Linked DNA regions of Homo sapiens: all the other regions are linked to region 2. The links come from fine-mapping of genetic effects on gene expression. A gene starts in region 2. Each other region holds a variant in brackets. All regions are shown on one strand. Distances are from middle to middle. Region 1 overlaps PIGL (phosphatidylinositol glycan anchor biosynthesis class L). Region 2 holds the start of TTC19 (tetratricopeptide repeat domain 19). Region 3 holds the start of ADORA2B (adenosine A2b receptor).

Region 1 (8,178 bases), 250 kb before region 2:
ATCCTATTTGTTTTGTTTTGTTTTGTTTTTGTTCTTGTCTTTGTGTCGCTCTGTTGCCCAGGCTGGAGTGTGACGGCATGATCTTGGCTCACTGCAACTTGTTTCCTACCAGATTCAAGCGATTCTTGTGTCTCAGCCTCCCGAGTAGCTGGGACTACAGGCGTGCGCCACCATGCCCAGCTAATTTTTGTATTTTTAGTAGAGACAGGGTTTCACCATGTTGACCAGGCTGGTCTTGAACTCCTGACCTCAGGTGATCCACCTGCCTCGGCCTCCCAAATTGCTGGGATTACAGGCGTGAGTGCACTGTGCCCAGCCAGAATGGTGTACATTTTAAATGTATAAATTGTTTATTTCTGGAATTTCCATTTAATATTTTTAGACCACAGTTGACTGCAGGTAACCGAAACCACAGAAAGCAAAACTGTGGATAAGGGAGGACTACTGCAATTGAGGTTATATAAATCCATAAATGTGGGGCCCTAATCTGATAGAACTGGTGGTGCTATAAGAAAAGGAAGAGATCTGTCTCCCTCTGTCCCTCCACCACATGAGGCACAGTGAGAAGGCAGCCATGTGCAAGTCAGGCTGAGGACCCTTACCAGAAACCAACCCTGCCAGACCTTGATCTGGGACTTCTAGTCTGCAGGACTCTGAGAAAATAAATTTGTGTTGTTTAAGCCACCCAGTCTATGGTATTTTGTTTTGGCAGCCCAAGCTGACTAAGACAGATTTTAGTACTGTGAAGTAACAGATACATAAAAATGTGCAAGTGGCTTTGGAACTAGATAATGGGTAGAGGTTGGAGGAGTTTTGAGGTGAATGCTAGAAAAATCCTAGACTGCCAGGAAGGAATGGTTGGTAGAAATATGGACATTAAAGGTGATTCTGGTGAGGACTCAGGAAAGGAAAAGGAGACTGGAGAGAAAACCTCCATCTTCTCAGAGAATACATAAACAATCATGAACAGAATGTCAGTGGAAATATGGTCTTTAAGGCCATTCTGATGGGGTCTCAGAGAAAAATGAGATAAGACATTGGAAAATGGAGAAAAGGTGATCACTATTATAAAGAAGCAAAGAACCTGCCTGTATTGTGTTCTAGTGTTTTGTGGAAGATAGAACTTCTGAAGGATGAAATTAGATATTTAGCTGAGGCGAATTCTAAGTAAAATTTTGAAGGTGTGGCCTGGGTCCTCTTGACTGTTTATAGTAAAATGTAAGAGTTGAGAGATAAAGAAGAAATTGCTACGTTTAAAAGGAACCAGAACGTAAAGGTTTTGGAAAATTTTCAGCCTGTCCATATTGTAAAAAAATGAGAAAGCTTGAGGCTGGGCGCAGTGGCTCAAGCCTGTAATCCCAGCACTTTGGGAGGCCAAGGCTGGTGGATCACGAGGTCAGGAGTTCAGGACCAGCCTGACCAACATGCTGAAACCCCGTCTCTACTAAAAACACAAAAATTAGCCAGGTGTGGTGGTGCGCGCCTGTAATCCCGGCTACTTGGGAGGCTGAGGCAGGAGAATCGCTTGAACCCAGGAGGCAGAGGTTGCAGTGAGCTGAGATCGTGCCACTGTACTCCAGCCTGGGCGACAGAGTGAGACTCCATCTCCAAAAGAAAAAAAAAAGAGAGAAAGCTTGTTCTGAAGAGAGCACTCTGGTGTGACTGAACAACCATTTGATGAGGTGATTAGCATGGGTGTGAACCACACATGTAATCAACCACCTCAATAACAGCCAGGAGAAAGAAAAAATCGGGTGGGACGAAAGAAGCCTGCTGGACTTAAGAGTCTACAGGACCAGACAACAGAGCTATCTGGCTGCAAACATGCGTCGTCCTTCAAGAAAAGGGAAGAATGACCTCAAAAGTTATCCAGAGATCAGAAGGACTACCATTCCCACCACAGGCTCCAGAGGGCTTGGAGGGCCGAATATCCGCCCAAAGAGGATTGTTCTCAAGCCTCAAGATCTAATGGAGTTTACCTTCCTAGGTTTTGGCCTTGCCTGGGGCCTGTCACCCATTTCTCCCTTTTGGAATGAAAATATCTATCCTATGCCTCTCCATTCCTTATATTTTGTAAATATATAACTTGTCTGTTTTCACAGGTTCACAGCTGGTGAGGCTATTTAGATGAGACTTTGGACTTTCGAGTTAATGCTGGAATGAGTTAAGACTTTGGAGGCTGTTAGGATGGGATGAATGTATTTTGCATGAAATAAGGACATGAATGTGGGAGTCTGGGATGGAATACTATGAACTGAATAGTGTCCTCAACAAATTCATGTGCTGAAGCCCTAACCACTAATTGTAACTATTTTGAGATAGGGTTTTAGGAGGTAACTAAGATCACATGAGGTCATACGAGTGGGGCTTTAATCCAATAAAACTTGTAGCCTTTTAAGAAGAGGGAGGGAAGAAGGAGAGAGTGAGAGAATCTCTTTCCAGCATGTGAGAACATAGCGAGAAGGTCATCTGCAAGCCAGGAAGAGAGTCCTCATAAGAAAGTGACCCTGCAAGACCTTGATCTGGGCCGGGCGCGGTGGCTCACGCCTGTAATCCCAGCACTTTGGGAGGCCGAGGCGGGTGGATCATGAGGTCAGGAGATCGAGACCATCCTGGCTAACAAGGTGAAACCCCGTCTCTACTAAAAAAATACAAAAAAAATTAGCCGGGCGCGGTGGCGGGCGCCTGTAGTCCCAGCTACTCGGGAGGCTGAGGCAGGAGAATGGCGTGAACCCGGGAAGCAGAGCTTGCAGTGAGCCGAGATTGCGCCACTGCAGTCCGCAGTCCGGCCTGGGCGACAGAGCGAGACTCCGTCTCAAAAAAAAAAAAAAAAAAAAAAAAGACCTTGATCTGGACTTCTAGCCTGCAGAAATGTGGGAAAATAAATTTCTATTGTTTAAGCCACACTGTCTACGGTATTTTGTTAAGGGAGCCCAAGCAGACTAAGATGCATTTTTCTTGAATCTTCAAACTGGCTTCTTTAAGTATTTACTTTTTTTTTTTGAGACGGAGTCTCACTCTGTTGCCAGGCTAGAGTGCAGTGGTGCAATCTCGGCTCAGTGCAACCTCCGCTTCCCGGGTTCAAGCGATTCTCCTGCGTCAGCCTCCCAAGTAGCTGGGACTACAGGTGTGCACCACCATGCCCAGCTAATTTTTGTATTTTTAGTAGAGACGGGGTTTCACCGTGTTGGCCAGGATGGTCTCGATCTCTTGACCTCGTGATCCACCTGCCTCCCAAAGTGCTGGGATTACAGGTGTGAGCCACCGCACCCGGCCTGAAGTACTTACTTTTAATAGGCTTACTATCCCTCTACTATAGCATTTCACGAGTAGGGGAGTGATGCTGAAGCTACATGGTCTTCATGTGATATATAAAAAATATAGGTGCCATGACCGGGCGCAGTGGCTCACGCCTGTAATCCCAGCACTTTGGGAGGCCGAGGCGGGTGGATCACAAGGTCAGTAGATCAAGACCATCCTGGCTAACATGGTGAAACCCCGTCTCTACTAAAAACACAAAAATAAAAATAGCTGGTCAAGGTGGCGGGTGCCTGTAGTCCCAGCTACTTGGGAGGCTGAGGTGGGAGAATGGTGTGAACCCAGGAGGCAGAGCTTGAAGCGAGCTGAGATTGTGCCACTGCACTCCAGCCTGGGTGACAGAGGGAGACTCCGAGACTCCGTCTCAAAAAAAAA[T/A]ATATATATATATATGTGTGTGTGTGTATATATATATATATGTGTGTGTGTATGTATATATATATGTGTGTGTATATATATGTGTGTGTGTATATATATATGTGTGTATATATATATAGGCCAGGCATAGTGGCTCACACCTGTAATCTCAGCATTTTGGAGGGCTGAGGCGGGCAGATCATGAGGTCAAGAGATCGAGACCATCCTGCCCAACATGGTGAAACCCCGTCTCTACTAAAAATACAAAAAATTAGCCACTGCACTCCAGCCTGGCGATAGAGCAAGACTCCGTCTCAAATATATATATATATATATACTCCCTGGCTTACAATCTGGCTACGTCCCAATAAACCCATCCTAAACTGAAAATATCATAAGTAAAAAACACACTCTAGGCCGGGTGTAGTGGCTCATGCTTGTAATCCCAGCACTTTGGAAGGCCGAGGCAGGTGGATCATCTGAGTTCAGGACTTCAAGACCAGCCTGGCCAACACGGCAAAATCCCGTCTCTACTAAAAATACAAAAATTTAGCTGGGCATAGTGGCAGGCGCCTGTAATCCCAGCTTCTTGAGAGGCCGAGGCGGGTGGATCACGAGGTCAAGAGATTGAGACCATCCTGGCCAATGTGGTGAAACCTCGTCTCTACTAAAAATACAAAAATTAGCTGGGCGTGGTGGTGGGCACCTGTAATCCTAGCTTCCTGGGAGGCTGAGGCAGGAAAATTGCTTGAATCCAGGAGGTGGAGGTTGCAGTGAGCCGAGATTGCACCATTACACTCCAGCCTGGGCAACAAGAGCGAAACTCCGTCTCAAAAAAACAAGAACAACAAAAAACACACTCTAGTCTGGGTGTGATGGCTCACACCTGTAATCCCAGCACTTTGGAAGGCTGAGGTGGGTGGGTTGCTTGAGCTCAGGAGCTCAAAACCAGCCTATGCAACGTGGCAAAACCCTGTCTCTAAAATAATTACCAAAAAAATTAGCTAGATGTGGTGACGTGTGCCTGTAGTCCCAGCTACTCGGGAGACTGAGGCAGGAGGGTCACTTGAGCCCGGGAGGTGGAGGCTGCAGTAAGCCATGATCCTGCCACTGCACTCTAACCTGGGTGACAGAGTGAGACCCTGTCTCAAAAGCAAAAAACAAAAACCAAAAACTCCCCGCTTTATACCTTCAACTTAGGAGGTGTTTATCCAAATGTAACCCCATCCCAAGTTGAGGAGTGTACTGAATGCACATTGCTTTCTATCAGAGTAAAGATCTTAATAACCAAGATCTCCAAAACAGATTTGTCCCCGAAAACATTTGCATTACTGGGCCAAAGCAGACACTGCACAGGCAGGACATTGTGCAAATGGAGTGCCTGAGAAAAAACACGATTACTAATATTGAAATTGCCTTTGCAAAATTATGACTGAGACAGTGAAAGAGATCTAACTTAACTGACTCCATCTTGCTTCTAACCTCCAAGCTGTCCTTGTTCATTCCTGGGCATAGGATGAACTAACTTTGGGAGAAACTTAATTTATAGATCATAGTTTAAACAAAGACGGTAACAGCCCTTTCCCAAAGCAGACCTCCTTGCCTGGGGACTAGATTGCCTTTGTAGGACTAACGAGTTAGGCCCAAGATTATAAATTATGGTTTAGGAGTCATGCAGCTGGAGGACACAAGATTCTAACCCTCCCTAAACTGCTAAGATCAGTGCTTGAGATATTTTGCAGACCCTGCACTTGATGGATCACCCAGATCAATAAACTGGCTCATCTGATCTTGTAGTCCCCCACCCAGGAACTGACTCAGCCCAAGAAGAGACCTTCGACTCCCCATGATTTCGTCTCTGACCAATCAGCTCACTGGCTTCGCCCCACCCACCACATTATGCTTAAAAACTCTGCTGCCTGAATGCTCAGGGAGACAGATTTGAGTAACAGTAAAACTCTGGTCTCCCGCAGCTCTGCGTGAATTACTCTTTCACCATTGCAGCTCTCCATCTGGATAAATTGGCTCTGTCTAGGCAGTGGGCAAGGTGAACCCCTTGGGCGGTTACAATATTAATGTGAAAAAACAAATCACAACACTCACAGAGTAAGAGGGTGGGATATCATCTTTGAAAACAAAGGAACCCATAACTCCTTTCACAAATTAACTCAAAACCATGTATCTTTCGAGGTTTACGGAGGAAGAAATTTAGGAACAGAATTCAGTAACTTGCCTAGGTTACGCAATTAAAAACTTTAAACTTGGGTTTCAGTCTGGGCAGTCTGGCTCTATAAATCCACTGGTATAAACAGAAGAAATTCTCCCGTGGTGACCCCAGTAGTTTACCATGAAGCAAGTAAGATCAAGAATAAATCTAAACTTTTTCCTTCATCTCTTTGTAGCATACTGAAATGAATGGGATCCCCACCCCAAATCAAATACAGTGAACATCAATTCCCACCAATGCCTAATATTATAAAGAATAATCAGCAGGCCAGAAACGGTGGCTCACGCCTGTAATCCCAACACTTTGGGAGTTCGAGGCAGGTGGATCCCCTGAGGTCAGCAGTTCGAGACCAGCCTGGCCAACATGGTGAAACCCTATCTCTACTAAAAATATAAAAATTAGCTGGGTGGGTGGCACACGCCTGTGATCCTAGCTACTTGGGAGGCTGAGGCAGGAGAATTGCTTGAACCCGAGAGGTGGAGGTTGCTGTGAGCCAAGATTGCACCACTGCATTCCAGCCTGGGTAACAGAGCAAGACTCCGTCTCATAAACAAACAAACAAACACACACCAGTAACAACACAGTTAATGGTTAAACACTGGATATGTTGTCAATCAAATCATAAATACGGATAAAGTTGCCTGCTTTCCCTTTTTTGTTTAACATAGATTAAGGAAATCCACTCAAAGAAATAAGAAATGGATCAGGGCTGAGCGCAGTGGCTCATGCCTGTAATCCCAGCACTTTGGGAAGTGGACCATTTGTGGTCAGGAGTTCAAGACCAGCCTGACCAACATGGTGAAACCCCATCTTTACTAAAAAAACAAAAAATTAGCCGGGTATGGTGGTGTATGCCTGTAATCTCAGCTACTCAGGAGGCTGAGACAGAAGAATCACTTGAACCCAGGAGGCAGAGATTGTGTTACAAGCGAGACTCTGTCTCAAAAAAAAAAAAAAAAAAAAAAAAAAAGGAATCAGAAATAAGAGGCATATGTTGAAAACATGAAAGATTGTATTAGCATTATTTGCAGATGATTTACCTACAAAACTTTAGGGAATCAAGTTAAAACTGGTAGGCTTTTTACAGAAGTTTCAAAGTGATGAATATAAAATAAATACATTAAAAAATCAATAAAGCTACATACTAGCAGTAAATTCTTAACCAAAAAATCTTTTTCACAGCAATAATAATAAAAAAGAATCAAAATAACTTTAACAAGAATTGTTTAGTACCTAGATGAAGAAAACTATAAAAAGTTCTATATAGACTGGGAATGGTGGCTCATGCTGTAATATCAGCACTTTGGGAAGCTGAGGCAGATCACTTGAGCCCAAGGGTTGGAGACCAGCCTGGGTGACATGGCAAGACTCTGGATCTAAAATAATTTTTAAAATTAGCTGGGCATGGTGGTGCACACCTGTAGTCCTAGCTACTTAGGAGGCTGAGGTGGGAAGATTGCTTGAGCCCAGAAGTTAGAGTTTGCAGTGAGACAGGATCATGTCATTGCACTTTAGCCTGATGGCAGAGACCTTGTCTCCAAAAACAAACAAAAAAAAACCCCAAAGAAAAAGTCCTATACTCTGACCCAGTAATTCAATATCTAGAAATTCATTTATGGAAAGAGTCAGAACTTCAAAGAGATTTGCTAAAAAAATTGTAAGTGCTTAAATATTAGAAAGATTTAAATATTCAATAGTAGGAGAATGTTAAATGTTATGGTACATCTTCACGATTAAATCTTTACAATCATTAAAGACTTTTAATGATTATTTAATGACATAGAAAAATGCTAAAAATACTCTCTAGTAAAAAAAGCAGGGTACCAAATTTCTTATACCATTTGATGCTAATTTTGTTTAATACTGAGCAGATAATTCTCATTTTCCTTATAATTTTCTCAAGTATTCCCACCTTACATCTCAATGCTTCCAATTCTCCTCATTATAGTTTGTGGTTTTATTTTCCTCTAACTGATCCCCAGTTCTTATCACTCCAGTTAATCCATGGGCAATTTCATTCACCCCAAAGATTTTCTTTTTTTTTTTTAAGACAGAGTTTCACTCTTGTTGCCCATTCTGGAGTGCAGTGGTGTGATCTCGGCTCACTGCACCGTCCTCCTCCCAGGTTCAAGTGATTCTCCTGCCTCAGCCTCCATGCACCACCACACACGGCTAATTTTGTATTTTTAGTAGAGATGGGGTTTCTCCACGTTGGTCAGGCTGGTCTCAAACTCCTGACCTCAGGTGATCCGCCCACCTCAGCCTCCCAAAGTGCTGGA
Region 2 (8,164 bases):
GGGCAAACTGGAAAAAGACTGACAATTTCAAAGATGAGGGATGGAACACTTTGAGTGTGACACCCAATTTCTGGGAGACCCAGATGACCAGTAGACAATGAATATTATGTAACATCCCAGAGTCAAAGTTTCCTGCCCACAGTCCTACTCCCTGGCTGCTGTACTTACCTGTTCTGCGCAGCATAGATACTGGCCAGCTTTAGGGAAATTTCAATTATTGCATTGTCCTCCTGTGAGAGAAAGAGAATGAAGGGAACTCATAACAAGTAAATTTTTTCATGGCATATTTCAGATCAACTTCCAGACTGACGGTGGCCTCAAAGCCACAGTCTTTATTCTTTTAGAGTGATGAGCCAACTGTGAATTCCTTGGCAAGCATGCTGTTGCATTTAGTGAAAGAATGGCAATTTGTATAGAGATCTCAGAAGGGAAACTCCACCTTTCCTGACCAAAGCATGTGGTGGGGCTAGGAGGAGTTTTCAGGAGACAAGACTGTTTTGAAAACTGCTTCAGTGAGGGGCCAATACTAGGCAATGTCCTTACCTGCTTCATGCCCCCTCCAAGGAGGTAACTCATTGTTGCTTTAAAAAGTTGTTCAGCCTAAAAGCATAAGGAAAAGATTTTTCTTTTAATTGGGCCCCATTTTATATATATATATATGACCCTGGATTCTAAGTGCCAGTCTGATGCAACATTCCTTGTAAAACCCATATACCCACACACACGCACACTCACACACAGAAAAGTACCCTTTTGAAGCGAAAACAGATCAAAATATCAGGACCCTCAACATCCTCTGTGTACCTTAAACTACTCTCTGATGAGTAGAAAACAACCTCAGAGATTAAGTTCTTATCCAAACCCACTGTGGCAGAGACTACAAACTGTCTCCTAATAGTCATTCTCTTCTCCATCTTTTTGATTACAGAGTCCCCTCGATTTAGCCTGGGAAATATGGTGAAATCCCGTCTCTACAATAAATAAATAAATAAATAAATAAATAAATAAGAAAATTAGCCAAGTGTTGTGGCACACGCCTGGAATCCCAGCTACTCAGGAGGCTGAGGTGAGAGGATCAACTGAGCCTGGCAGGTCGAGGTTGCAGTCAGCCATGATTAAGCCACCGCACTCCAACCTGGGCAACAGAGCAAGACCTTATCTTAAAAAAAAAATTCAGTCAATTTTAGCAGATTGGACACCCTTAAGTTAGATATGGTCATATGATAAAATTTAGGCCAAGGGATGCAGGCAGAAAGAACGTGAACTTCTAATCATGTTTTATAAGGAAGCTGCTCACAGTCCATCTTCTCCCCCTTCCTGCAGACTGGAGGTGAGTCAGCTCACCTAGGCAGAGGAGGGCTTATCTTAGAAGAAACCTGGACTTCTGGATCAGAGAGCAAAGGTGCCTATGTCTGTCTGCCTTCAGTCTTTAGCCTATCTCTGGACTAACACAATAAAGAGAAATACACTTTTATCTTGTTTGAGTCACTATATTCTAGGGTCTCTTTGTTATAGCAGCTTAGCCTGTACTCTTACTATTACAGTTCCCTTGAAGCTACTCCTTCATAAATTCAAGATATTACAAAGCAATTTACTTACATTTTCAAGCTGACCCCGTATAAATGCTAAGTTGGCCATCTGAAAGCAAATTACAAATTGTTTTTCAGTTTAGAATACTGTGTTCCTACTTATTTCAAAACTTTAAAATTCCCTTTTGCTTTCACCCTCAAAATTTAAAAAATAGTTGAAAATGAAAAGCACATCACCAATTAATCTGCAAGAAGAAGCACAGGACAGCAATCATGTGAGAATTAAATACTTGCACATACTTTGTTGTTAACAAACCAAATCTAGGTCCACTCATCATTAAAAAAACATGCTAATGATACTGGTTTTTTTTGGTCTGGAATTGAGAGGTCTTATGTCACCCCAAGGGTAAAAAAACTGAAGCTGTGGCCGGGCGTGGTGGCTCATGCCTGAAATCTCAGCACTTTGGGAGGCCAAGGCAGGTGGATCACCTGAGATCAGGAGTTCGAGACCAGCCTGGCCAATATGGTGAAACCTCGTCTCTACTACAATACAAAATTTAGCCAGGCATAGTGATGCATGCCTGTAATCCAGCTACTCGGGAGGGTGAGGCAAAAGAATCGTCTGAACTCATGAGGCGGAGGCTGCAGTGAGCCAAGATTGTGCCACTGCACTGCAGCCTGGGCAACAGAGTGAGGCTCCATCTCAAAAAAACAAAACAAAACAAAAAATGAAACTGAAGCCAAAAGAAAACTCAGTAAAAAGAAAAGGAGTTTTAGAACATCGTGAAAGTCAGGAATATAAATCAGAAGAACTAACTACCCTTCCCTCCCATCCAACCTTCCTCATCAGTGGTTCAGACTGGTTATAAGAGTTACCAAATCATAAGTGTAAGTGATGGCCTTCTTGTTATCAGTCTGATAGGCGAGACGAAGAGCGTCATGCAAAATTAACTCAGCCTCTTCTGGCTCATCTTTCATAATGCTCAACTGAAAAGGGAAGACAAAATAATAGAAAATGAAACATATAGTAGATGCATATGCTAAGAGACAGAAGTGTATGCAACTGTACATCCCAACTGATAGAAGGAAGCTAACTCATTCATCAGACATTTACTGAATTCCTACTATGTACAAAGCATTGTCTACAGAGATGACAGGGAGGTCAGCCTCCCTTGCAGCTAGGTGTGGCCATCTGATGAAGTTTTGGCCAAGAGACACAGGCAGAAGGAATGTGATCTTACAACATATTTTATAAGGAAGCTGCTTGTCCTCCATCCTCTTTCTAATTTCTTGCAGGCTGGAGGTGACCATATAGGACAAGTAAGCTTAATTACAACTAATGATAAGAGCTATAAAGATGACAGAAAGGAATGATAAGGGGTCTCCTCTAAATAGGACTTAGGGAAGCCTTCCAAGGAAGTGACAGCTAAACTGAGGTAGTAAGGATGAGAATGAGTCAACCAAATAAGGACCTGGGGAGAACAATGACTCAAACAGAGGGTAGAGAATGAGTGAAGTCCCTACAAGCTGAAGAGAATGGTTTTGAGGAAGAAATGCAAAGAAATAGATGTGAAGGGAGGATGGTGAGCCAGAGGATTACTGCCAAATGGGTGGGCAAGGTATATGCTGGTTTAGATCATGTGGGGTGTTGCAAGCCAAGGCAAGGAGTTTGTATTTTATCATAAATGCAGTGGGTAGCCATTCAGAGCTTTCTGACAAGGAGATGACATAATCCAATTTACTCTTTTTTTTTTTGGTCGCTTTGGTTTCTGCATGGAGAATAGATTGCAAGAGGCCAGGAGGCCAGGAAAGACTACTGGAGCATAGTTGGTGGCAATGATGGTTTGCACTAGGGTGACAGCAAGGGAGATAGACAAAAGGGGAAAGATTTGAGAAATATTTTGCATTTGTTGGCAACAGGACTTGTTGCTGGACTGTAAGTGTATTGGAAGGCAATGGTAAGGTACCACAAGTTTTAAGAATGACTATGAGGTTTTTAGGCTGAAAAACTGATGGTAGTAAAGAGATGGCGAAAGCGTATGTTGAGGAGGCATTAAAGATCGTTTAGTTTTGGGCATGTTAAATCTGAGAGGTAGGTATGGTCCTAAAGTGCAAATGGCATGTCAGTAGCACACTACAGAATGGAAATACAAATTTGGACGTTGTTGGCATCGAGTAGGTATTTAGCTCAATGGAAGAGATGAGATAACTTGGGAAAAGAGGAGGAAAAAAAAATAGAAAAGGATGTGGAGAAAAGGAAGAATTCAGGAGGAGAACCGAACCGCATAACCAACACTAAGTTGCCATTTTCAGGCCGCTATATACGTGCGAAATTATGTCATTTCAGATAGGCTGGTTAATTGATAAAACCACTACAAAACGTTCCCGATATTTCGTTTGCATAAAGCGTGATGCCTAGGGCGCCATCTCCATTTGCACTTGACACTGCAGAGGTTTTACTGCAGGCCTTAGAGTCGGAAAAGCCTGGATGGATTCCAATCCCCTCTCGGATGACCCACCTCATTCTCGGCAATTTTACCCGCGGAGCCTCCATCCACTCTTCGGCGAGGCGGAGAGAGTAATGCGCAGCAACGCCAAGACCCCGCTCACAAAGGCTACCGCGCTCGGCCGGGCGCAGGGCCCGGAGCCGCCTCACCTTGGCTCGCTTCAGCAGCTGGATGATCTCTGCCTCGGCCTCGTCCGCCCCGTCCTCGGCAGCGGCCCCGTCGGCTCCCTGCTGCTCCTCCTCCTCTGCCGCAGCGGGCCTCGAGAACCAGGCGAGCGCTGCGGGAAGGGGCTCTGAGGTCATCGGGCCCGGCCCGCGCCCCTGTCCCCGCCCGGCCGGCCCCGCCCGGCCCGCGCCCCTCACCTGCCAGCAGCGGCAGCAGGCCTGGGCCCCGGCCGTGCGGCGCGACTCGGGATGGCGGCACCTGCACCTCGGGCCCCGGACCTCCTGCCAGCCCCGGGAGCAGGCGCGCGGAGCAGCCCCGGCACCGCCGCCCCGCGGCCCGCAGGAAGCCTCGGCCCAGGCTCCAGCTCAGGAGCCGGAACATGCTCCCGCCGCGTCCTCTGCGCACTGCAGGCCAGACGCGCTCCTGGCCCCCGACCACGCGCCGAGCGCCCTCCGGATTGGCCGGGCCCTGACGACTGAGCAGGACATCCCTGCGTCCGCACGCGCGATGACGCGCCCCGACGTCACTCCGTCTCGCCCTGCCCCGGCGGGGGGTCAGGATCCTCCACAGGTAGGCGCAGTCAGCTGGAGCGTCGCGGCGGTCCGCCGGTCGTGGAGGGCGTGTCCTGCGGCGCGATGGCCGTAGTGTTGCCGGCGGTTGTGGAGGAGCTCCTGAGCGAGATGGCGGCGGCGGTGCAGGAGAGCGCGCGAAGTACGGGACCGAGGTCGTGTGTGGCTGCGCCATGGGCGCGGGCGGGGCATCCGGGCACCGCCGGGCCGGGAGGCAGGAGGCGGGGTGTCCGGGCCTGGCCCTGCCTTTTTTCCATGTGGTTCTCTAAACCTCTTGTTCGTAAAAAGACAAAAAAACAAAACAACAAAAAAGCGAAATTGGAACAAGTAAAAGTCAAATCGATTCAGCAAATATTTACGGTACAGCGCAGTTGCAGGAGCCCCTCCGTCGGAGCGAGTAGGCCAGTGGGGACCGAAGTGCTGAGAGCTGGCCGGGTCGCTGGGAGGGGTCCCCGCCCGGGGGTGGAAGGGACGGGAGCCTACAGTGAGTGATAGAAACGTGGAGTTCTTGATTATTTTACACGAAATTTTGAATTATTAAACTTCTTTTTCTCAAATTCTGATGTTAACATTAAAGTTAATGCTTCCATACACTTTAAAAAGTAGGCCCAGCGCAGTGGCTCACTCCCGTAATCCCAGCACTTTGGGAGGCCGAGGCAGTTGGATTACCTAAGGTCAGGAGTTCGAGACCAGCCTGGCCAACATGGTGAAACTTCGTCTCTACTAAAAATACAAAAAATTAGCTGGGCGTGGTGGCGGGCGCCTGTAATTCCAGCTACTCAGGAGGCTGAGGCAGGAGAATCGCTTGAACCCGGGAGGCGGAGGTTGCCGTGAGCCGAGATCGCGCCATTGCACTCCAGCCTGGGCAACAAGAGCGAAATTCCATCTCAAAAAAAAAAAAAAAAGCATTTTAAGAGCCACAAAACCTAAATGCATATGCAATCGTTGGAGTAAATCTGGGTATTGTGAAAGCACCATTTTTTTTCTGACCAGCAGAGGGTACTCTTTGGCTATGCTCACCAAAATCACTTGAGAAGGGTTGATCTCAAGATGTGTTCAGAGTATGCTAGGATAAGATCAAATCAAATTTGATATACTCAAAATGCATTGACTAATGAACTACTCTTAGGATGTAAAAATGGCCACCTTATAAATAACAGCCATATCAGGCCCCCAAACTGCCATCGCTTATTCAACTTGGATGGCTTTTGTTTTAAAAGTACTGTACTGCATTTTGAAAGGGTTTATCTTGAGTTACTGTTTTTAAGGAACTGAGAAAAATAAGCCAACTTTGTTTCCTCATCTCAGTCAAAATTAAGGAGACTTAAGTATATGTGCTTGAAAGATTAGTGCAGCCAAGTATTCAAACATACTTGTTTCCAAAAAGGATGGGAAAAAAGCCAACTGATGTTAGCTTATACAATTGTTCTGGGCTCTCAGATTTGATGGCCTGAGGGTTTGGAATGCTGTCACTTTAAACAATAATCGCCAGAACTGTTCTGTGTCTGAATAGGTTAATCCATACACTGACAGTAGTTTGGGTTGGTTTGTTTTTTTTTTTTAGACAGAGTCTTGCTCTGTCTCCCAGGCTGGAGTGCAATGGGCGATCTCAGCTCAGTGCAACCTCCGCTTCCCAAGTTCAAGTGATTCTCCTGCCTCAGCCTCCCAAGTAGCTGTGACTACAGGCGCATGCCACCACACCCGGCTAATTTGTGTATTTTTAGAAGAGACGGGGTTTCACCATATTGGCCAGGCTGGTCTCAAACTCCTGACCTTGTGATACGGACACCTCAGCCTCCCAAAATGCTGGGATTACAGGCGTGAGCCACCGTGCCCAGCCAGTTTTGGGTTTTTTCCCTCCAACAAGAAGGTTCACAAGACACATTGACAGTCCTGAAGGGGGCATAATCATTGCCCCTGACACCCATGGTTCAGACACAGGAACCAATGCTGTTGATTCATGTTTATTTTCAGAAGCCCTGTTTTCTGTCTTTTTCAAAATCTTTTTTCTATTAATATATAGTTATGCACCCTTCCTAACCCCCATTCTTCAGTGGTAATTTTTTTAGATCAAGATTCCAAGTTTTATTTGTATGATGATATATAAACTAGTCACAGTGGAACCATGTAGGAAGCTATGATTACTTTTTGTTTTCTTTGTAACTTTTGGATTTCCCTGGAGTTACAACTATCTTGGTTTTGTTTATGTGCTTATTTAGTTTTTTACATATTTATTCCTACTTTAACCTCACATCCTTTACTAGTGTTCTCAATCTCCCCTCAAGATGTTCAGATGAACGAAGTATGTTATCAGTTTCACCTTCCTGAAGACATCTCTAGAGCCTTCGGACTTGCTTAATATGGACTGGCTGATCTCTCGGCTGTTTGCTGAGATCTCTCTTAACCATTATTATCTGGGAATTCTCTGTATCTTTGTTGGGTCCTATGTTTAGTATATCCTACAGTTTTCTTTTTCTCAGTTTACTACCTCTTTTTTTTTTTTTTGAGACAGTCTGTCACCCAGGCTGATGTGCAATAGCATGATCAAAGCTCACTGTAGCTTTGACCTCCTAGGCTCAGATGATCCTCCCACCTCAGCCTCCCAAGTGAGTATCTGGGACTGCAGGCACACAATACCACAGCTGGCTAGTTTTTTGTATTTTTTGTAGAGACAAGGTCTCACTATGTTGCCTAGGCTGGACTCGAAGTCTGGAGCTCAAGAGGTCCACCTGCCTTGGCTTCCCAAAGTGCCAGGATTACAGGCATGAGCCACCGCACCCGGCCCATGTAAAATTTTTTTTTTTTTTTTCGAGACAAGGTCTTGCTCTGTCACCCAGGCTGGAGTGCAGTGGCACAATCATAGGTCACTGCTCCCTCAACCTCCCAGGCTCAAGAGATCCTCTTGTCTCAGCCTCCTGAGTAACTGGTACCACAGGTGTGCACCACCATGCCCAGCTAGTTTTTGTATTGTTTGTAGAGACGGGGTTTCACTGTGTTGCCCAGGCTTACTACCTTATATTATGGCACACAGACTCTGCCAGCTTCCTGAAGAAGGGGGCATGAGATGTACCTTTTGAGGCTTTCTTTTCTATTTTTTGAGACCGGGTCTCACTCTGTTCCCCAGGCTAGAGTACAGTTGCGCAATCACACCTCATGCCCAGCTGATTATTTTATTTTCTGTAGAGACGGGTCTTCCTTTGTTGCCCAGGCTACTCTGGAACTCCTGGGCTCAGGCGATCCTTCTGCCTTGGCCTCCCAAAGTGCTGGGATTATAGTTGTGAGCCCCCACACCGGCCCCTGTTTGAGGCTTATGTCTGAAAAAGTTGTGGGGTTTTTTTGTTTTTTTGGGTTTTTTTTGAGACGGAGTTTCGCTCTTGTTGCCCAGGCTGGAGTG
Region 3 (8,178 bases), 55 kb after region 2:
GACTATAGCTCAATTTTTTTTTTTTGAGGCAGAGTTTTGCTCTTGTTGCCCAAGGTGGAGTGCAATGGCGTGATCTTGGCTCACTGCAACCTCTGCCTCCCGGGTTCAAGCGATTCTCCTGCCTCAGCCTCTCAAGTAGCTGGGATTACAGGCACCCACCACCACACCCAGCTAATTTTTATATTTTCAGTAGAGACAGGGTTTCACCATGTTGGCCAAGCTGGTCTCGAGCTCCTGACCTCAGGTGATCCACCCTCTTCAGCCTCCCAAAGTGCTGGGATTACAGGCGTGAGCCACCGTGCCCGGCCCTATAGCTCAATTTTTTTAAGTTTTGAAAAACATTCAGAACCCCCCGCCAACTCCTACCCTAAGCACAAAGTCTTGCTAAGAGGTCTTTAATCCCTACCTCAAAGACCAGATACGTGAGGCACAGAGAAAAGCCTCAATGTGGCAAGAGCAGAGAGGGTGACTGGGCAGGGTCCAGGGACAGGTCAGATACACGGCACTGGACCCATTCGGCCAACTAAACCCTCCCGGATCCACCCTCTTTCAGCTCCACTAGGAAAACAGCTGGCCTCAGCCCTGCCAGAGACTCAATGCCACAGGGCCAGGGAAACTGGGTCTACAAGCAGCGAAGACCCCCACAGTGGGTGTGGCATGAAAGGAACAGGATTCAAGCAGGGAGGAGGAAGTGCTCCTGCCTGAGGGTGAAGTGAGAGCTGGGAGCAGCTTTGGGCATGGCCCACACCCTCCTGCCTGTACACGTCCACCTCCCCCAGCCCAGGAGCTACACGCCCACTCCCGTCGGCACCACTGGGGACTGGAGCCCCCCGCCGCCAGGGCCCAACATCAGGAATTGTCTATGGACTTGAACCAGAGGCAATGGACTTCTGTTTGTGGCCAGCCCTGTCCTGAAGGCAAAGGGCCAGGCCAAGGGCGTCATATTTGTCCCTGGCATTCCCTCCGGCTCCCCTCCCTTCTACACTGTCATCTGTCACATCAGTAAACACCTTGGCAATGCGGTGGCAGGTGGGGGCTGTGGTCTCTGCGGCCACAGGCCTCACACTTGGAGCCCTCGAACCGGGAGGAACTGGGGGTAGGTCCCAGGACTGTCCTAGCCTAAGCCTTTAGCCCTCACTCCCTGCACCTCACCCTCCTTATTGCTTGGCTTCAAAGGGGACACACCTCCTCCCAAACAGGGCACTTCCAACTTTACTCTCACCTGGAGTTCCACAACCCCAGGAAGGCCTCAGGGCCAAGTCAGTGCTTGGGGCGCCATGCACCCAGCCTGTGTCAGTCAAGTGAGGAAAGCTTCAGGCCCTGAATCTAGGAGGATTCTTAGATCGCTGGACCCAAATGTCCCTGGTTAAAGATCCCACTGCTGGAATCCCCTCGACACCCACTCCAGAGATTCTGATTCAGTACAACCAGGTGAGGCCCTGTAATCTGTATTTTAACCTCTTCCCAAGGGGCCATGAACTGCTAGGCCAGCTGAGGGAAGGCCTGCCCCAGGCACCAGCCCCTGAGAGGGAAGCCCTGGGGGCCCTAGTACACCTCTCCCACCCACCAGGGTTGGGGTGGTGCTGTGGCCAGGTCAGACGACTAACTCTGGGGCAGGGAGCTGGGGACTGCCTGTGCACCTCTTCCAGACCTCCAAGCTCTGGACGGGCCAGGAAGGCAGGATGGGGCGAGCCTCAGTGTTCTTCCCTCCTGCCCTTGGCAATGCAAAGAAGCTCAGGGCCTGTGATTCACAGCACTTTCCCCTTAACACACCCACACCCATTTTTTTCAAGACCTCACCCAGCACAAACCAGGACAAGAAGGAACAGATTTAAACTTTCATGGAACTTCCTGCTCCCTGTGGCCTGGGAGATTGTTCCACTAACTCCTCTCTGGGTCTCTGGTCTCTGCCAGGGCAAGTCCAAGGGGTTTCCATTAGATGGACAACTCAGGCTGGGGCTTGTGACTGCTCTGCTGGATGCAAAACATCCAAAATGCCATCAAGTAACAACGATGACACCAAAAGGCAGGGAAGGGATCCAGAAGAGAGAGAAGAAACTGCTGTCCTCCCTAAGCCTTGGAAATCCCTGGGCTGTCACACCTGATGGGAGACATAAGGCCTCCTGGTCCAACAGCACGGGCAGCAGCACATGGAGTGGCCAGACACCCACATAAGGCTCACAGCCCTCCCAAGCAGGAGGCTCCTGTTCCTGCTGGGACCCACGAAACAACCTGCAAGGACCAGGCCCAACACATCTGCCTACTCAAATGGCCTCTGGGAGCATTCTCCGGCTCCATTCCCACAAACACATTCCCCTACAACCACCAGTTTACTGCAGGCAGGCTCCTCCTCCCAAAACAGCAGAGCACTTTTCTCCCTGACTCCTAAACACGGTGCCACACATGGCCTTGCAGAGTGGCCTGATGGCATGGGTGGGGACACGGTGCCAGCTGTGAGTTCAAGCCCCGGCTCTGACACCCATCCCTGATACACCATCCTGGGCAAGACTCCAACCTCCCTGGGCCATCACCCCTCCTCTACGAGATGAAGGTTACAGCACCCGTCCTCTGGTACTACTGCAAGGACTGCTGGGGACACGTTTATTATAAACTGTCTGCACAGAGTTGGCACCCAATAAATGAATTCCTTCCCTTCCTTCCTACTCTGTGATTTAGTTTCCCTGTCTCAGCTCCAAATTTAAAGAGATCTCAAGCTCTCCTCAGAAATGCCAAAGTGGCCCAGGCACCAAAGACAGAGAATAAATACTTTCAACAAACTCTCAATGTTGAAGTCATCAGCTCCAACTGGGAATCCACTCTGGTCGCTGGCTGACTCCATCCCCTGAATCCTAGATTTTCTCAGTGTGGGAGAAAGAGTGGACAAGTAAGTTCGCCACCATTTTCTGCACTTCTCAGCCCGCTCCCAACAGGGCAGCAGGAGATAAATAGTTACACAAGGGCAGTGAGGCTGTAAGGCCGTTTGCCAGACACGAGGAAGCATTGTAACTCCTTTTAAAAGTATATAATCTGAGTCCGTAGCGTTCCCCAAAGTTAACGGACACCTTCCCCTGGGATGGGCCGGGCCGCCTCTCCGCAGCAGACACGTTCTGAAGCTGGCTCATGCGTGTCCATTCTGACGGTGCGAATGCCCAGCGTCCAAAGTTGCCTTGCCCTTAGTGGGAACCTCCCGGGCCTCCGGGAGCCGCAGCACTCACGGGACTGCCGCTGCACCGCCGCTGCGGGCGAGTGTTAGGAACGGCCTTCGTGGCAGGAGTGGAGATGTGATCACCAAAACTCCCGCGCCCCGGGCTCCACCCGCCCACGGGGGTGACGCTTTCCCCGGGGGTGACGCTTTCCCCGGGGTTTCCACGGCGCCTCCCCGGGCGCCGGGGACCGCACTCCCCGGACCCCCTAGAGCTGTCCCTACGCAGATCTCCTTAGAGCGACGCGCATCTGGGATGTCTTGGGTGCCCGGGCGCACTGGTCTAGCGTTGCGGGGTGGCCAGGCTGGGAACCAGCCCTCCAAGCGCCCCGCGCGCCCCCAGCCTGGCCCGTCTGGGGCCCCCGAGGGAGGAACCCCGGCCTGGAGAAGACGACCCATTTCGGAGCTCCGACGGGGCCCCGAGTTCGGGCGACGCCGAGCGCCTCACCTGAGCGGGACACAGATGGCCAGGTATCTGTCGACTGCCACGGCCAGAAGGCTGAAGATGGAGCTCTGCGTGAGCACCAGCACGAAGCAGGCGAGGAAGAGGCAGCCGTAGAAGTCAGTGCAGAAGCCCAGGCTGATGGTGATGGCAAAGGGGATGGCGAAGAGCCCCACGGCCACGTCGGCCGCAGCCAGGGACACCAGGAAGTAGTTGGTGGGCGTCTGCAGAGTGTTCGCCGTGCCCACCGCGGCGCACACCAGCACGTTGCCCGCCACCGAAAGCGCGGCGATGACCAGCTCCAGCGCCACGTACAGCGCGTCCTGTGTCTCCAGCAGCATGGCCGGGCCAGCTGGGCCCCGGGCGCCCCCTACCGAAGGCGCGCCGGGCGAGGGGCAGCCGCGTGAGACCCGCCGGGCATGGCCATAGCGCCCGGACCGCGCCTCCGCCTGCCGCTTCTGAGCCTCGGGGCTGGGGCGCTGGTGGCCGGGACCCACGGGTCGGGGCCCCCCGCGGCCAAGAGGCGGCACCCATTGGCCCGCGCGCCCGCCCGTCTCGGGCTGGGCGGAGCACCACCCACTCGCCCGAGCCCAAAGTTCGCGCCCGCGCGGGGCCCCTCCGGTCCAGGCGCCGTGCCGCGTCTTGGTGGCGGCGGATAACTAACAAATTGCCCCAACTTCCCGTCACGCTCGAGCTCGGAGGCTGTGTCCCAGTGCTCGCACTGCCTTCCAGTCCGGGCGACTCCTGGGATGGGGCCGGGCTCTGCCCGGGGCGCCAGCAGGTCCCAGGAGCCGCCGCGAGAGGACCCCCCAGGGCCGCGCAACCCCGGGCGGGGCGAGCTCACTCCAGGCTAACCCTGCGCACCCCGGGCAGGCCGACTGGATGGGGGGCTGCCGGGCAGGCAGGGAGCCGAGGCCGCAGTCCCCGCTCGTGCAGCAGTCTCGGGCAGCGCAGCACCACCGGAGCTGTCTCCAGGCTGCGGGGCCGGACTGCAAGGAGCCCTCGGGGGCTGCAGCCCCCTCCGGCCGCCTCCCAG[C/A]GAGGCTCAGCGCTGTTCTCCACCCTCGCCCGCGCCACTGCCCCTACGGCCCCGCTCTGCCTTCTACCTTAAGACAAGCTCGTGGCCGTCCCATCCTCGTCCACCGCCCGAAAATACCAGTGTTCCCCGGGCCCTCTTTTTTCTTTCCTTCACACTCACCCTGGATCGGCACAGGCTCCCGAGGCCTCCCACGTGGCCCTCACACCCTTAACTCCCAAATCTCTTGCTTCAGCCCTAACAGCCTCCTGAGGGCCAGATCCTAACACCCCACTGCCGACTCTCGCCAGGAGAGAGACTGGTGCCCCCAAATCCAACAAGACCAAAACCAAGCTCATCTCTAATTCTCCCCAAACCTGTGCTGCCGCCTTTTCCTGGGACCCTGTTCGTTATTGACCTGGCAACCCTCACCCACCCTAGGAAGTTTGCTGACACCCTGAGCCTTCGCCTTTCTCCACGTCCCAATGATCAGCAGTGCTGCTGGTTCTGCTTCCAGAGACTTGCTTCCTTTTACCCCCAAAGTCCTGCCCCGAGTCCCTCCTCACCACCTGCTTCTACCATCCCTCCCTCTCTGCCTGTGGGTCCTCAGCTTCTGCAGCCCTCACCAACACCATTGTTCTAGAGCACTCCTGGCCACGCTATTTCACCACCCGAAAGCCTTTGCTGACAGTCACCAAAGAGGATGGGTAAGGAGATTTTCCAGCAACAGGAAAAGATGCTTGTAAAATCATGTAAAGCAAAAATCAAAACATGGGGTGACTGCTAAAGGGTAAAGGATTTTGTAAAGGATTTTTTAGGGTGATAAAAATTTTCTCAATGTGGTGATGGTTGTACGGTTCTGTGGATATACCTCAATGCCACTGAACTGTACACTTGAAAGGCATGCATTGTGTGGCACATAAATTATATCTCAATGTAGCTGTAATGACGACAACATGGCTCACGCCTATAATCCCAAAACTTTGGGAGGCCAAGACAGGAGGAACATTTGAGGCCAGGAGTTCAAGACCAGCCTGGCCAATGTAGGGAGACCCCATCTCTAAACAAACAAATAAAAAATAAATCAGCCAGGCACGGTGGCAGGTGCCTGTAGTCCCAGCTACTTGGGAGGCTGAGGCAGGAGGATCCTTTGAGGCCAGGGGTTCGAGGCTGCAGTGAGCTGGGATCATGCCACTGCATTCCATCCAGGCTGGGCAAAAGAGGGAGACCCTGTCTCTAAAAAAAGACAAGAAGAAGAAAAACCCCTCTGCCCTCCACAGGCATAAACAGTCACATCTGCCCTTGCACCAACGAGGACAGCAAAATGTCAAAAACACACACAGTAGACCTCCTAGCTGGGTGGGATGATTACAGGGAATTTTTTTTTCTATTTCCCTTGAGGTTTTGTTACTTCCATAATGAAAACAGTTGATTTATATATCAAAATATTGGCAAGCCCACACATTCCGTGTCCTGGTCACGTGAGTTCTGGAATCACCTGCTCCACCAATCACGTTCCCACAGCAGTTGACACAAACTTCTGCTGCCACACAGAAGGCCAGAGAGATCAGGCAGCTCCTCCAATAGCACTTCCTTGGAGTGGCAGAGGGCAAAGGGTTAGAGGAGGCTTCCTGGGGTACTGGCTTTTACAGAGTGAGGGAGGCTTCACAGTGGGGTGGTTCCAGCTATACCAGGCAGAGGTGGTAGTTAGGAGTTTGCCCAGGGGTGCCATGCCCAGGAGAGTGAAGAGAAAAAGGCCTAGTGGAGAAGGCTCTGGCTGCCAGGCTGGAGAGCTGGGCCATCCTGCTGGGATGCCAGTCCGCAGAGGTCACAGGACGGGGCGGGGATGGTCAGAGCAATATCCAAAGGAGTGAGTGGAGATTTTGCAGAGGGAGAGGAGGCGAACGGTGTCTGGCTGGTTGCTATGAGTGGTTCCTGCACGCCCTGCAGCTGCTGGGCCTGGGCTCTGCTCTAGCATTTCCTGTGCCCAGAATCACCATTTCCCCTTTTCAGAGCCCAACCTCCATCAGGAAACCTTCCCTGAATCACCCAATGTATTAGGCCATTCTTACATTGCTATAGGGAAATATCTGAGACTGGGTAATTTACAAAGAAAAGAGGTTTATTTGGCTCACAGTTCTGCAGCCTGTAAACCATAGTGCCAGCATCTGCTTGGCTTCCAAGGGGCCTCAGGGAGCTTTACTAGTGGCAGAGGGTGAAGTGGGAGCAGGCATGTCACATGGGGAAAGCAGGAGCAAGAGGTGGGGGGAGGTGCCACACCTTTTTTAACAACCGGATCTAGTGAGAACTCACTCACTATCATGAGGACAGCACTAAAAAGGATGGCACTAAACCATTCATCAGAAACTGCTCCACTGCTTCCACTAGGCCCCACCTCCAACACTGGGGATTACATTTCAGCATGAGATTTGGGAGGACAGATTTCCAAACGATAGCACCCAAGTAGGAAGTCTCCAGCACAGGGCTGTGCCCTGTTCCCGTCTGTGTTGCAGTCCACTGAGTTTCAGGTCCCCGGTGTCCCTCACCAGCAAAGCTTTCCCTTCTCCGTCCTCTCCCCACCCCAGCCCCACCTGGTACCCTCTGACTCACACAACAACCCGCCCCTCTTCACAAAGTCTTTGTGAAATGAATCATACATTTTCCTGACTCCTTCAACCCCTGATCCACGCTAGGATTTGAGCTGGACTCACTGGGTCCATGGGGGTGCCAATTATTATTATTAAATATTATAATAATTATTATTAACAGGTTATTATTCAGGAAACACGAGGAGGAAGGGTGGAATCCGAAGAGAGTCATGGCATTTAGTCTTTTTTTTTTTTTTTTTTGAAACAAGAGTCTCACTCTGTCACTGAAGCTGTAGCACCATGGTGGGATCATAGCTTACTGCAGCCTCAACCTCCTGGGCTCAGGTGATCCTCCCACCCCAGCCTCCCAAGTGGCTAGGACTACAGGTGCACACCACCATGCCTGGTTAATTTGTAATGTTTTTGTAGAGACAGTGTCCCACTATGTTGCCCAGGCTGGTCTTGAACCCCTGGGCTCAAGCGATCCTCCCATCTCAGCCTCCCAAAGTGCCGGGATTACAAGTGTGAGCCACTACACCCAGCTGGTTTAGTCTTGAAAGCAATTGGTGTGCAGGGAGCAGAGCCCAGGTCTTAGCAACAGAGACTCCAGGTTTGATTCCCAGCTCTGCTGTTGATGTTGGACAAGTCAATTAATCTTTCTAAGCCCCTATTTCTTATGTATAAGATGGGATAACAATATCTACTTCACAGGGTCAGGCTAAAAAGGGGCAGGAGGAGCCATCTGCCATCTGACTACCTCTAGATCCTGACTCCTGGAAAACAACTGCAGTGATGAAAGCATCTGGTTAGGTTAGGACTAGAGCCCTAGAAACTCAAGTGGGACTTTCACTGGTGAAAGTGGAAGGGTATGCTTCCTGAACAAACTGACCCTCCGTGGACCTCTTCCAGACTGCTAGTACACATCGTCTCATCT

Evidence for each region.
Region 1: its variant is fine-mapped to the expression of TTC19 in whole blood (INTERVAL, PIP above 0.99).
Region 3: its variant is fine-mapped to the expression of TTC19 in whole blood (INTERVAL, PIP above 0.99).

What each region holds. Positions count from the first base shown.
Region 1 is chr17:16,241,336-16,249,513 of GRCh38, reverse strand. The region is part of intron 2 of PIGL (phosphatidylinositol glycan anchor biosynthesis class L); the gene reads right to left. Among named protein-coding and RNA genes, the nearest start is that of PIGL, 28 kb to the right of the region's middle. The variant T/A (reference allele first, on the strand shown) is at 3,694.
Region 2 is chr17:15,996,267-16,004,430 of GRCh38, reverse strand. It overlaps TTC19 (tetratricopeptide repeat domain 19), which reads right to left and starts at 4,607. Exons shown (of 10, transcript NM_017775.4): 1 at 4,399-4,607; 2 at 4,186-4,313; 3 at 2,406-2,516; 4 at 1,600-1,638; 5 at 544-600; 6 at 169-230. The coding sequence starts at 4,582. It overlaps ZSWIM7 (zinc finger SWIM-type containing 7), which reads left to right and starts at 4,727. Exons shown (of 5, transcript NM_001042697.2): 1 at 4,727-4,912. The coding sequence starts at 4,837. RefSeq lists silencers at 4,254-4,643, 4,994-5,153 and an enhancer at 4,764-4,853.
Region 3 is chr17:15,941,056-15,949,233 of GRCh38, reverse strand. It overlaps ADORA2B (adenosine A2b receptor), which reads right to left and starts at 4,104. Exons shown (of 2, transcript NM_000676.4): 1 at 3,651-4,104. The coding sequence starts at 3,985. RefSeq lists an enhancer at 3,287-4,101 and a silencer at 3,929-4,548. The variant C/A (reference allele first, on the strand shown) is at 4,681.